4 linked regions of the Homo sapiens genome follow. The protein of the gene in region 3 interacts with the protein of the main gene of each other region in a pairwise test. Each region holds a gene or a part of one and is shown on either strand. Other genes may lie near its edges.

What was found.
Region 1: the proteins of DEXI (region 3) and UBQLN1 interact in binary tests that used the Homo sapiens proteins (3 or more experiments, as listed by UniProt).
Region 2: the proteins of DEXI (region 3) and SETDB1 interact in binary tests that used the Homo sapiens proteins (3 or more experiments, as listed by UniProt).
Region 4: the proteins of DEXI (region 3) and PRKCA interact in binary tests that used the Homo sapiens proteins (3 or more experiments, as listed by UniProt).

The regions. Positions count from the first base shown.
Region 1 is NC_000009.12:83,697,890-83,701,538, forward strand, and holds part of UBQLN1 (ubiquilin-1), read right to left. Parts: intron 1-3,649. UniProt on the Homo sapiens protein: Plays an important role in the regulation of different protein degradation mechanisms and pathways including ubiquitin-proteasome system (UPS), autophagy and endoplasmic reticulum-associated protein degradation (ERAD) pathway.
Region 2 is NC_000001.11:150,953,783-150,957,431, reverse strand, and holds part of SETDB1 (histone-lysine N-methyltransferase SETDB1), read right to left. Parts: intron 1-3,649. UniProt on the Homo sapiens protein: Histone methyltransferase that specifically trimethylates 'Lys-9' of histone H3. H3 'Lys-9' trimethylation represents a specific tag for epigenetic transcriptional repression by recruiting HP1 (CBX1, CBX3 and/or CBX5) proteins to methylated histones.
Region 3 is NC_000016.10:10,928,250-10,930,562, forward strand, and holds the end of DEXI (dexamethasone-induced protein), read right to left. Parts: exon of another isoform or gene 1,311-2,313; 3' UTR 642-1,310; downstream 1-641.
Region 4 is NC_000017.11:66,806,033-66,809,681, reverse strand, and holds part of PRKCA (protein kinase C alpha type), read right to left. Parts: 3' UTR 1-3,649. UniProt on the Homo sapiens protein: Calcium-activated, phospholipid- and diacylglycerol (DAG)-dependent serine/threonine-protein kinase that is involved in positive and negative regulation of cell proliferation, apoptosis, differentiation, migration and adhesion, tumorigenesis, cardiac hypertrophy, angiogenesis, platelet function and inflammation, by directly phosphorylating targets such as RAF1, BCL2, CSPG4, TNNT2/CTNT, or activating signaling cascade involving MAPK1/3 (ERK1/2) and RAP1GAP.

The DNA.
Region 1 (3,649 bases), on a different chromosome or scaffold from region 3:
CCACACCTGGCAAATCTTGTATCTTTAGTAGAGACGGGGTTTCTCCATGTTGGTCAGGCTGGTCTCAAACTCCTGACCTCATGTGATCCACCCGCCTCGGCCTCCCAGAGTGCCGGGATTAGCAGCATGAGCCACCATGCCTGGCCAGCATCTTCATTTTTTAAAAAAAGGATAATAATAGTGCTTTCATCATAAAGTTATGTGACATTTTAAAAAAATATAATGCATCATGCCTTATAAATCATGCCTGCAATAAATATTGGCCATTATGTCATTGTCATTAACAGCATTTGCAAAGGTTCAAAAAGGGGAAGAAAGAGCCAGTGATATTTGAGGGTAGGGGAAGAGACAATACAAACTGGCTGAAATGCAATGAAAACAGGAGAAAAGGCAGGTGGAAGCACATCCTGAAAGCTTTATTAGCTGTGCTAATTCAGCAGTCACTAGCTACATATGGCTATTAAGCACCTGAAATGTGGCTACTTCAAACTGAGGTATGCTTAAGTGTAAATTACAAAATATATTTCAAAGACTTAGTATTTCAAAATGCAAGATATTTTATAGTCTTTATATCAATTGCACCTTAAAATATTTTAGACATACTGGGTTAAATAAAGCATATTAAAATTACAATAGCCAAAAGGTGGAAGCAACCCAAGCGACCAGCAACAGATCAATGGATTTTTAAAATGTGGTACATACATATAATGGAATATTATTCAGTCATACACAGTAAATTCTGGCTGGGTGCGGTGGCTCACACTTGTATAATCCTAGCATTTTGGGAGACCAAGGGGGCAGATCGCTTGAGCTCAGGAGTTTGAGACCAACCTGGGCAACATGGTGAAACCCTGTCTCTACAAAAAAATACAAAGTAGCCAAGCATGGTGATGTGAGCTTGCAGTCCCAGCTACTTGGGGGGCTAAGGCAGGAGGATCACTTGAACTTCAGGAGGTGGAGGCTGCAGCAAGCCATGATTGTGCCACTGCACTCCAGCCTGGGTGACAAAGTGAGACCTGTCTCAAAAAAAAAAAAAAAAGTAAATTCTGACACATGCTACAACATAAATGAACCTTGTGGACGTTATACTAAGGGAAATAAGTTAATCACAAAAGGCCAAACACTGTCTTATTCCACTTATATGAAATACCTAGAGTAGTCAAATTCAGAGACAGAAAGAAGAATGGTGGTTGCTAGAGGTGGGGGAATGGGGAAAATGGGGAGTTACTGTTTAAACGGTCCAGGGTTTCAGTTTTGCAAGATGAGTTCTGGAAACGGATGGTGGTAACAATTGTACAACAATGTGAATGTACTTAATGTCACTGAAGTGAACCCTTAAAAATGGTTAACATGATAAATTTTGTTATGTGTGAGTCACCACTATTGAAAAATTGACTTCAGTCCTTCCTTTTGATTAAAGTGGCTAATAGGAAAATTACATATGTGGCTCATACTGTTTTTTGTTTTTAAGAGACCAAGTCTCATTCTGTCACCACAGCTGGAATGCTGCGGTGCAATCATAGCTCAGTGTAACCTCCAAACTCCTGGGCTCAACCTTGCTGGACTAGCTGGGACTACAGGTGTGTGCCACCACACCTAGCTAAATTTTTATTTTTTTGTAGACAGGCTGGTCTCGAACTCCAGGAGGTGGGGGCTGCAGTGAGCCATGATCACTGAGCCATGGTGCTCAAGCAATCCTGCCACCTTGGCCCCGCAAAGTGTTGGGATTACAAGCATGAACCACTGAGCCCAGCTCACATTGTATTTCTATAAAAAATAAGTCATGGTAAAAATTTCCAATGAGAAGTGTTTTGATGAACAAGATATATTAACAGGAAGCCCTAATACCAGGGTAAGCAAACTTTCTGTTACGGGCTAGACAGTAAATATTTTTGGCTCTACCAGCCACATGGTCTATTCTGAAAGGAGCTATAGATAACACATAAGCAAATGGGCACAATAGATTTCGACTACCAGTTTGCTGGCCTCTGCCCTAAGGCACCCATTATAAGCAATGGCTCTTAAATTTTCATAAATTTTGTGAGCCAGTTTAATAACGGTATCTTGAAATCTGCCACAGTGAGAATATTTACATCATGGAAATCCAGCAAACACTACAAATCAGTGTTTTTCCTGAAGAACGGGTTGATAAACCAGCATTTACCAACAAACCACTCACTATGTAATGAATTAACTTCTCTCCTATACATCTAAAATTATATTCATTATGAACCATCTTTGAAAAGAAATGGATAGCTATTCATATCACTTTCTGTGCTCTGTGGTTCAGATGAGAATCTCCAGCTAAGAAAGGTGGTTCTAGAAGAGTAATGTTCCAGGCAGAGAAGCAAGAGTGAACATCATGAAGCAGTCAAGAGTTGTGCCTGGAGAGTGGTGACCTGGGGGGAACAGCTTAAGAGGAAGCTTCCACAAAAGGACTGGGAGCTACCAGATTATGTACATACTACACTCAGTAAAGGTTCAACAATAAGTAGTTATTACTGAATATGTATTATTGTACATAATGGACTAGATTCATCTGTAAATAATTTATTGAGCCCTAGGCTCTGGTAACACAATGGTGAACAATCACAGCCCCTCTCTAAAGAGAAGGAATCACATAAATATACAATTTTTAGTTGTGATGAATTCTTATCAAAAACAGGCTACTGTGAGAAATCCAACAGGGGATCCCAATCCAGTCTGGACAATCAGAAATAGATACTACCTGGAGAAACTGACCTTTGCATTAAGATTTAAAGATGGAAAAGGAATGGGCAAAGAGTGTTCTTGCATTCTAGGTAGCAAGAACAAACTGTACAGAAGTCCTCAGGCAGGAAAAAAAGTATTAACAGGTCAGGGAACTAGAAGGTCAATGTAGTCAGCCAAGCAAGCAAAGAAAGAAGGCATCTGCAAAAAATGGAGAGGGCATGGAACCGTATTACACAGGGCCTCGCTACTCCATTATATATTCTAAGACCAACAGGGAGCCATTAGCTTTACACAGAGGGTGGCATGCTCTGATTAACGTTTTTCAGAGATCACTCTTGGAATGGCTGGTGGGAGAGTTATAGAAGTCAGGCAACTGACCAGTAGGCTACTGCAGTTTCTAGGCAAGAGGTAATGGCAACTTATTGGAGCCACTACCCGATATTTTAAGTACGTAATCTATAAAATACGCCACCACAGAAATTTTTGCTCTCAGGACACCATTTTACAACTTCAGAACTCCAAAGAGTTTTGCTTGTTTAGGTTATAGCTGTTGATATTTATAATATTACAAATTAAAACTGAATAACCTTTAAAAATAAATTCATTTAAAAATAATACATTATATATTAATAAAAATAACATCCTTATGAAAAATAACTATTTTCTCAGTGATAAGAGTGGCATTATTTTAAATTTTTGGAAATCACTTTAGTCTTGTAATAGAAGACAGCTGGATTTTCACATCTGTTGTCATATCCCACACCTTAAAGACTCTAGCCAAGTGCACTGCCCAGTTTTGAGAAAATTAGACTGAAAAATAAAAATAACATCTCAGAATTACTATGAAAATAGTTTCATCTCATGGTACCCTTAACAGGGTATGGGGACTCCCCAAACCACAGTGAGAACTACTGCTCAGATAACAAAAAGCAAATTT
Region 2 (3,649 bases), on a different chromosome or scaffold from region 3:
TACTAAGCATATACTTTTGTGTTTGGCATTGTGTGAATGCCTTATATATACATATTCTATCCTTAAAGCTGCCCTAATACAGGTGGTGTTTTTTCTTTTTGAGACACAGTCTCGCTTTGTCGCCCAACCTCCGCTTCCTGGGTTCAAGCGATTCTCCTGCCTCAGCCTCCCAAGTAGCTGGGATTATAGGTGCATGCCATCATACCCTGCTAATTTTTGTATTGGAGACAGGGTTTTACCATGTTGGCCAGGCTGGTCTTGAACTCCTGACCTCAGGTGATCCACCTGCTTCGACCTCCCATTTTTTTTTTTTTTGAGTCATGGTCTTGCTCTGTCACCCAGACCATAGTGCAGCGGCACAAACACAGCTCACTGCAGCCTTGACCTCCTGGGCTCAAGTGATCCTCCTGCCTCAGTCTCCTAAGTAGCTGGGACCACAGCTGCATGCCACATGCCCAGCTAATTTTTAAAACTTTTTTTGTAGAGACAAGGTCTCATCACATTGCCCAGGCAAGTCTGGAACTACTGAACTCAAGCCATCCCCCCACCACGGCCTCCCAAAGTGCTGGGATTACAGGTGTGAGCCACCATGTCTAGCTTTTTTTTCTAACTTTAAAAAAGATTATTTCCCATGTCGGTAATCCCAGCACTTTGGGAGCAAGACTCCATAGCAAAAAAAAAAAAGAGATTATTTCCCTGGTGGTCTAGTGGGTAGGGGGAAATAAAAGATTATTGAAACGTAATATACACAGAGGAAAGTACACGTAAGTCTATACAGATCAATGAATTTTACAAACTCAGCATACCATGTAACCTGCACCAGATCAAGAAACAACTTTGTTAGGTCCCTTAAAACCCCACTGGGGACATGGGGGTGTTTATGTTAATATCCTCTGTTTACAGCTGATCAAAAAAGATCAGCTCAGTAGGGGCAGGGCTGGAATTTGAACTCAGGTGTCATTATTACCACATGAAACCTTTACAGTAGCTATACTATCATTCATTCATTCCACAAAATTTAAGTGGTTACTTTTTTTTTTTTTTTTGAGGCGGAGTCTCACTCTATTGCCTAGGCCGGAGTGCAGTGGTGGGATCTTGGCTCACTGCAACCTCCACCTCGCGGGTTCAAGTGATTCTCCTGCCTCAGCCTCTGGAGTAGCTGGGATTACAGGCGCCTGCCACCGCACATGGCTAATTTTTGTATTTTTAGTAGAGACGGGGTTTCAACATCTTGGCCAGGCTGATCTTGAATTCCTGACCTCGTAATCCACCTGTCTCGGCCTCCCAAAGTGCTGGGATTACAGGCGTGAGCCACTGCGCTTGGCTTTTTTTTTTTTTTTGAGACGAAGTCTCCTTCTGTCGCCCAGGCTGGAGTGCAATGGTGCAATCTCGGCTCACTGCAACCTCTGCCTCCTGGGTTCAACCAATTCTCCCATCTCAGCCTCCTGAGTAGCTAGCACTACAGGCATGTGCCACCACGCCTGGCTAATTTTTTATACTTTATTAGTAGAGACAGGGTTTCACCATGTTGGCTAGGCTGGTCTCGAACTCCTGACCTCAAGTGATCTGCCCGCCTTGGCCTCCCAAAGTGCTGGGATTACAGGCATCAGCCACTGCACCTGGCCTAAGTGATTACTATGTGCCAGGCATTGGGTAAACTGGTGATACAATGGTTAGCAAGACAAAGAGACAGATAAGATCCTTGCCCTCATGAAGGAGCTTATATAATAGAAAAAAAGAAAAACAAGTCAACAAAAGTTGTCATAAATGCTATAAAGAACACAAACATGGTGCTCAATGAGAGAATTAAGGGAGTAAAATGACCTAGTTTTAAAGTGGTCAGGGAAGGTCTCTCTGAGGAGGTGACTTTACAGCTGAAAGCTCAAGGTTAAAGAAGATAGCCACACAAAGAAAAGTGGAAGGATGCCAAGAAGAAGGCACAGCATGTGCAAGTCTCCAGAGGCAGGCTGGAAAACACTGGTTGAACTGGATCCAGGAACTGAAAAATATCAGTGTGGTTGGAATGACTTTGGAGGGAGACAGGAAAGGGCCAAATATATAACCTAAGGTTAAGAGTCAGAATAAAATCCAAACAGCAGAGGGACTATATTATAGAGTTAAGCAGGGGAGTGATATATTATTTGTGATTATTTGAAAATATTTTTATGAAACATTTCAAACGTGTAAAAAAGATATGAACACTCATGTACCACCCAGCATTATCAAATCTAAACGCTATTGTTAGATTCAAAATTTTGTTAATAATTAAAACATACATGATACAGCAATGCAACTAAACAACTGTCTATTCCTTTGTTTAGTTTTTCAATGTTATCAGTACAAATTCATCCTATGATCTCCCCAGTAGTCTCGATCTCCTCTGAATGTATTCAGGCACCTCAGGTTTTCTGTTAAACCAATTTTCCTGAAGAAGTCGCTCCTACAGCATCTGACCTGCTCCTGCAGTGGCTCTTCTCTATGCCTAGTACACAGCTGTCAGCCTGGAAGCCTCTTTCACTGCACTGTCACCTGTCTTCCCCTTTCCTGCCTTTCCCTCTCATTTTTGCAAATATTTCCAGAAACTTTCTGAGAAGGGGAATGATGAAAAACTCTGAGGTACTGCATGTCTAAAAAAATGTATTTAGCCTACTGTAACACCAAATTGATAGTTTGCCCGAGTTTAAAATTCCAGGTTGGAAATAATTTTCCCTTAGAATTCTGAACAGATTCTCCAATTGCTATCTAGCTTCTAGTGCTACTTTCAGGGAAGGCTGAAGTCATTTCAAGTCTATTTTTTAACGTGTTCTATTTCTCTTCTCTAGAAGCTTTTAGGATTTTTTTTTCCCTCAGTGTTCTGACATTTTATGATAATGTCTCTTAATGGGAACCTACCTTTATCCTTCATTATGTTGGGACCTAACTGGCCCTTTCAATTCAGAAACAAAGATCCTTCAATTATGGGACACTTTCTGAATTATTTCACTGATGCTTTTCTCCTCTGTTCTGTTAATTATGTATTCTGATCACTAGGTTTATTAGTTCACGTGTTTATATATACCAGTTTACCATGCTATACCCCACTCTTTTGTTGTCCTCCTCTTGTTTTAGAGATAAGAGTCATGCTCTGTCACCCCAGGCTAGAGTGTAGTGGTGTGATCATAGCTCACTGCAGCCTTGAACTACTGGGCTCAAGTGATCTTTCTGCCTCTGCCTCTCAAGTAGCTGGGACTACAGGCATGCATCTACCATGCCCGGCTAATTTTTTAAAAAATAATTTAGGCTGGGCGCGGTGGCTCACGCCTGTAATCCCAGCACTTTGGGAGGCTGAGGCAGACGGATCATGAGGTCAGGAGATAGAGACCATCCTGGCTAACATGGTGAAACCCTGTCTCTACTAAAAATACAAAAAAGTAGTCAGGCGTGGTGGTGGGCGACTGTAGTCCCAGCTTCTCGGGAGGCTGAGGCAGGAGAATGGCGTGAACCCGGAAGGCGGAGCTTGCAGTGAGCTGAGATCACGCCACTGCACTCCAGCCTGGGCGACAGAGCAAGACTCCATCTAAAAAAAAAAAAAATTTTTTTTTTAATTTTTAAATCATTTTTTTTGAGACGGAGTCTTGTTGTGTTGTCCAGACTGGAGTGCAGTGGTGCA
Region 3 (2,313 bases):
TGGAGAGAATTACTGCTTGTATTCCGTGAAACTACAAGCTCCCAATTCCACTCATTTAATCCCTCTCTTGCTCTGTTGCCCAGGCTGGAATGCAGTGGCATGATCTCAACTCACTGCAACCTCTGCCTCCCTGGTTTCAAGCAATTCTCCTGCCTCAGCCTCCCGAGTAGCTGGGACTATAAGTGTGCGCCACTATGCCTGGCTAATTTTTTTGTATTTTTAGTAGAGATGGGGTTTCACCGTGGTGGCCAGGCTGGTCTCGAACTCCTAACCTCAAGTGATCTGCCCGCCTCGGCCTTCCAAAGTGCTGGGATTACAGGCATGAGCCACCATGCCAAGCCCTTCCCCCCTATCTTTAATGAAGGTCTACCATGTGCCTGACACAGGGGATACCCACCCCCACTTCTATGGGATTCAGGCCTGGTTTCCAGCTTGGCCTTCAGGCTTTTCCCACCACACCCCAAATGCTGTCCCTGGCTTGTGGAGTGGGGCAGGGGGCCAGCCTGGGACTTTCACGCCAGCCCGACTGGGGCAGACTCTCTCAACCCCACTGGATCTTCTGCTGTTTGTCAGCCACAAGGTTCTGCCTAGAACTCCTTTCCCGAATCTCAAAGTTAAAAAAAAAGGCAGGGCCCCAGGGGTTGGAGTTGCATACATTTTTTTTTAATCCAAAGAAGTAAGCCTCCTAAGTATTGCTTAGACAGGTTTATCAGAATTAAGTAGGCACAACACTCATACTTTCAGAAAAGCATTTCCAGCCAGGGGAGTAACGTGGCACTCACCAGCATGATGTCTGTTTTGCCAACTTGCTGAAGAACGAGTAACCTGAAATGAAGGAGCGAGAATCCCACCCTCAGCCCCCCAACAGCTTCCTCAGCTTCTTTTTCTTCTGAGTCACCCCTGAAACAGTCGCTGCATCTAAGACCAGCCTCGGGCTAAACCCAGCTGGCCTGAAGGCTCAACTCACATCAAACGGAGCTGGGAGTCGCTTTTGCGTGTGTCCGCAGTTTGAAGTGTCCTCTCCGAAGGTGAAGTGGGGGAAGCAGGTGCGCTCCGGGATGAAGTGCAGGGAGGCAAACTCTGGCTGGGTTCCTGTAAACATCCATCGCAGCTGCAAATAATCAGAAGCCAAGGCCAGGCCATCGATTTGACACTGCAGGCAGATGAGGTCTTGGGATGCCTCTTGCGTTCCCCCTTCTGTGGGAGCAGGTGCCTTCCCAACCTCAGCACTCAGTCCCAATCTCTCTTCCACTCTCCTGGGTTCAAACAGGAACCTCTCTGTTGGCACGAAGCTTTTGAGGGGAGCAGGTCTAACAAGAAGGAAAAAGGGGGGTTATTAGCACGGAAGCCCCACCCTGCCACCAGGTTGGCTGGGGACAGGGACCAATCCACCAGGCTCGGGAGGCTTGGGGTGGGGCAGGGAAGTCTTCCTCCATCCCTCAAATTTAGGGAACCACTGGGAGCCCCAGACTCAGGCTGAAAATGTCTTTCTGCAAATATAAAACTCTTTTTAATGAATTTGCCTAATTTCTCAGAGACCCTGGGCTGGAGAACCAGTGCAATGTCACACGGGAGAGGAAGGACTGTCCTGTTTATTGGGAGGGAGGAGGGGGATGCTGGTGCAGCCTGCTCAGGAGTCACCCAGGGTCTGAGGGCTGACTTGCAGCTCTGGGCCAGCTGAGCCAGCGCTGGGTAGTGGGCAGGGCTTGGCAACACCTTCCACCTTGCCCGGAAAAATGCTTTGCAACCTACAGGAAGGCAATAGCCACAGCCAAGTTACTCAGCAGCCCCACTTGGCTCTTTCTCCCAGGATGCAGCATCATCTCCATGGCCTGGCCCCCTGGCACGTCCCCGTTTCCCACTGCCTTCTCTGTGTGCCTAGCCGGGTGCCAGTGTCTCTGTAGCACCTCGTGTTCCCATGCCCAACCCCTCTGCAGCCCCCTCAAGCCCTGCTCTGATTCCAAGCCTCATCTCCCAGCTCACTATCCTTTCCGCAAACTTCACTGAACATCTCGCAGAACTTGTATGTTAAACATGTGACATGTATTGTTGTTTGACAGGGTGCTATTGACATTTGGGGTAGGACAATTCTTGGAGGTGGGGTGGCTGTTCTGGGCACTGAGCATTTAGCAGCATCTCTGGCTCCAGGCCACTAAATGCCAGTAGCACCCCTGGCCACTGGAACAACTAAAAATGCCCTCCTACCCTATTTCCAAGGTCGACCTAAGGGGGCGGAACTGTTTCCATTGAGACCCATGCATCGTATAGGATAAGAAACTGAGGTTCTTATCATTTAATAGGATAAGAAATTGA
Region 4 (3,649 bases), on a different chromosome or scaffold from region 3:
TTCCACCTGAACTTGCAGTCATTCCCACGTGGACTCCATACCCTAGGAGCATGGGAAAATCTGGCAGTGGGAGATCAGGTCGGGGGTGCTCCAGCTGACCCAGGCTAAGTCCTCCTACAAGCTCCAGGGCATTGGAATCTTAGGAAATCGTCAGTTGCTTTGTTCTAAAAACTCATTTTTAAAGAATTATTATTAAAGTTCTCTATAAAAAAGTACAAATAGCCCAGTATATTCAGTTGCTCTACTGGAATTAACAAATAATTTCTTCCTTTAGGTTAAGAAAAAGTCTTTGGAATTTGGGGGCTTTTGTGTAGGGTCACTGTAAGGCTGTTGGATGGCTGAGTGTGACCTCCACGGTTATTAACTGTCACCTGATCACATAAATGGGAGGCACAGGGGTCAGAATCCTTCATACTGTTGACCTTCCCGAAGAATCCCTGACACTACGGAATTAACACAATTGTGGTTGACCCCATTTCTAGATGATGGCCTTCATCCATGTGTGCGTCAGGTAACCTTCCCAATTTCCTGGATCTTCTAGCAGCAGAAACAGGTAACATTCCCTGGATCTGCTGCATCAGCCCAAATGGGAGGAGACAGGAATGTTGACCGTCCAGTGTATTTCACATGTAGCCCAAGCAGCTTAAGGAAAATGACTTTAAAAAAATATTTTGGCTGGGCGTGGTGGCTCATGCCTGTAATCCCAGCACTTTGGGAGGCCGAGGCAGGCAGATCATGAGGTCAGGGGTTCAAGACCATCCTGGCCAACATGGTGAAACCCCATCTCTACTAAAAACACAAAATTTAGCTGGGTGTGGTGGCACGCACCTGTAGTCCCAGGTACTTGGGAGGCTGAGGCAGGAGAATCGCTTGAACCTGGGAGGTGGAGGTTGCAGTGAGCCGAGATTGTACCACCGCACTCCAGCCTGGGCAACAAGAGTGAAACTCCATCTCAAAATAAATAAATAAATAAATAAAAATTTCGCAACACTCCTTGTCAAATTGGTGTGTGGCCACTAACAACAGAGCACCCTTGTCCTTCCTGGTGACTGTCATGCCTACTGCTGTCCCGGTAACTCTCATGATCACACCCTTTGGGCCCCTGGCTCAGTGTCTGTTTTGTGATTACGATTGTCTGGTGTGCCCAGCAGGGGAAACAGGCACTCCTACCCTTGTCGGGTTATAAAGAAACAGGAAATGGTGTGATGTGCACACACAAGAAATAGGTGACTTTAGAAGACCAACGTGAGAAAATGACTGTCAGATGGTATCACCTTTCCGAGGCTTTTAAAAATACAAGATTGTCACTTTTTCTCTTTTCAGTACTGAGAAAACAAATTCCAGCAAAAAAAAAAAAAACAGGAACAAAAACAAAAAAAACCCTCCGAAATGTCTCCTGCTAAGTGGAACCCAGGTGGGAACTGCGGTGTTAGTTGTTAGTTGTGCGGTGTTAGTTGTTTTTACTTCTCCATTCATCCTCAGCTGCCATAATTCTTGGCAGGAAGCCAGAGAGGAAAATGGGCAGGAACCTACTGGCCTCTGGGGTACACTGGATGGTCTGGCTCTGCCCAGAGAACTATGAGCTACTTCAAGGTGGGGAGGGGAAAGGGGCTTCTAGCAGCTGGTGGGGATGTTGTTAGCATTTGGGGGGTGTTTTCTGAGGAGGAACAGACTGTGTCCCTGGCAAAACACTCTCTTGAGGGCCAGCAGACAGAAACTTCCATCTGCACCAACCACCTCCGATGGGAAGCCGTTGACGGTGGCACCCCTTCCTCTCCCTCCTACTGCAGGCATATTTCTGGATGCACCCAAACCCTGTTCTTCTCTGGCTCCTTCCTGACTACAGCCCCCGCCTCCCTCTCCCTTCTCAGCACGTCCGTTGGGGGGGCTCTCTGGAAGTCTGCATCCTCCTTCCAGGAAGTCACCACACTCGCCTAAGGACTTTGGCTCCGAGAGGTGCTCAACAATCATTTGTTGGGCTGCATGAACCTTGGTCTTTCCGGCCAGGCTTCCAGAGCTCTTGGCCCCATGGTTTTCTATCAAAATTCTGAGTAAGAAAGCCTAATACGTGGCATCAGAAAGGGCAGACAGTGGCCCTGCATGGACCACACGAGGCCAGTGGATGAAAGGAAGGGAAGCACTGCCGGAGCAATAATTTTGACTCCTGTGGTTTCTGATCTGCCTTTTGAATTAGTTCTTGCCTGGATGTGGGCCTCTCATTAACCTTGGAGGGCGGCCCCTGGCAGCACTCCAGTGACTTCCTTTCAAACCCAGCACCTGGTGACCTTCAATTGAAATGCCAAGAGACGGGCTGCCAGCCCACGGCCTGCAGCCTCAGGGAAAGGCCCTGCCACCGAGGAGTGGCCACCTTCCAAGGGAAGATAATGCAGAGCCATTTGAATGGCCTGGTGTGGTCATAGCTCCATGGGTCCTGCGGGGATTCGGACGGTGCTAGATTCTGCCAGGCGGCCTAGACCTCCACAGGCCCTGGCAATCAGGCAGTGCTCAGGGGCAAGGACTTCCCAAAGCATCCCCCAGGGACCTCCTGCGTGGCTGCGGCAGTTCCACAGCGCACCCCTCGCCACCATCTCATTTCACACAATACCCACGAAGGGGCCAGTACCATAGAATTTTATGAACTGATTCTGAGGCGAGCCATTGCTCATGGTTATCTACATGACAGTCTTCCAACAATAACTGTCTTTGGCTGCTGAGATCTGGAAAGCCCTAACCATTACCCACATTCAACACTCAGCAATGGATAAAGCAGGTTCCACATGACAACACTGCACCGGGCCCTGATTTTGACTGTTTCTCTCTGGGGGTTTGTTCTGATGTCTGTTGTCCCTCAGGCAGTGTGCTGGGCACCCCTGTCGGGGCATTTTCTTGGAAAACTTTGCCATATGGTCTGAGAGAGTAACAGCCAGCTGAGACAGTGAATGTGTTTCCTAGAGAAACAAACTTGTGGGTGTTGGGGTTGCAGGGAAGGCCTAAGCCTGCTGCCTGCTTTAAACAGGCAGGCTGTTTGGGGTGCTGAACAAGGGTCCCTAACCTCATGTGTTCCTCCGTGGGATCTTCCTCCTCTCTGGGGGGCCTCGTGGGGGTCTGTCCTGCTGCTGCTCCATTCTGGGCAGGGGGACTGGCCCTTTTGTCTCCTAGGCTCTTTCTATAAACCAGTCCCTTTCCCCTCGGATCAAAGGAGGAGCACCTGGTCAGGACACGAACCCAGATCATGCACTGACCTGCAGGGCTGCAGGGACAGGGGAGCCAGGACCCCCTGGAGTCTCGATGTCTATGGTGCATAAAAGATGGCAGAAGAAATGGTTCTTTTCTGGCCGGGCCCGTTCCCTACCCCGTCTCTCCTTCTACTCAGGGTTGCCAGGACCACCTGGGCCTCTCACCTCAAAAAGCCTTTCATGGTTGTGTGTTCTGTGAACTTCAGGCAAACAGCCAGAGGAGAAAAATAATGCGAGCTTAGCTGGGAGATGCTTCTGGGAGGAAACAGAGCGGCTCTCTACAAGGACTGACAGCTACTTTCATTCTGTTTCTGTTTGTGGTAGAACCCGGCTACTCTGAGGACCTTGCATGGGGGTGTCTCACCAAAGCAGCGCGCTCCTCCCAAGACTGGAAAGGCCAATGCCACAATGGC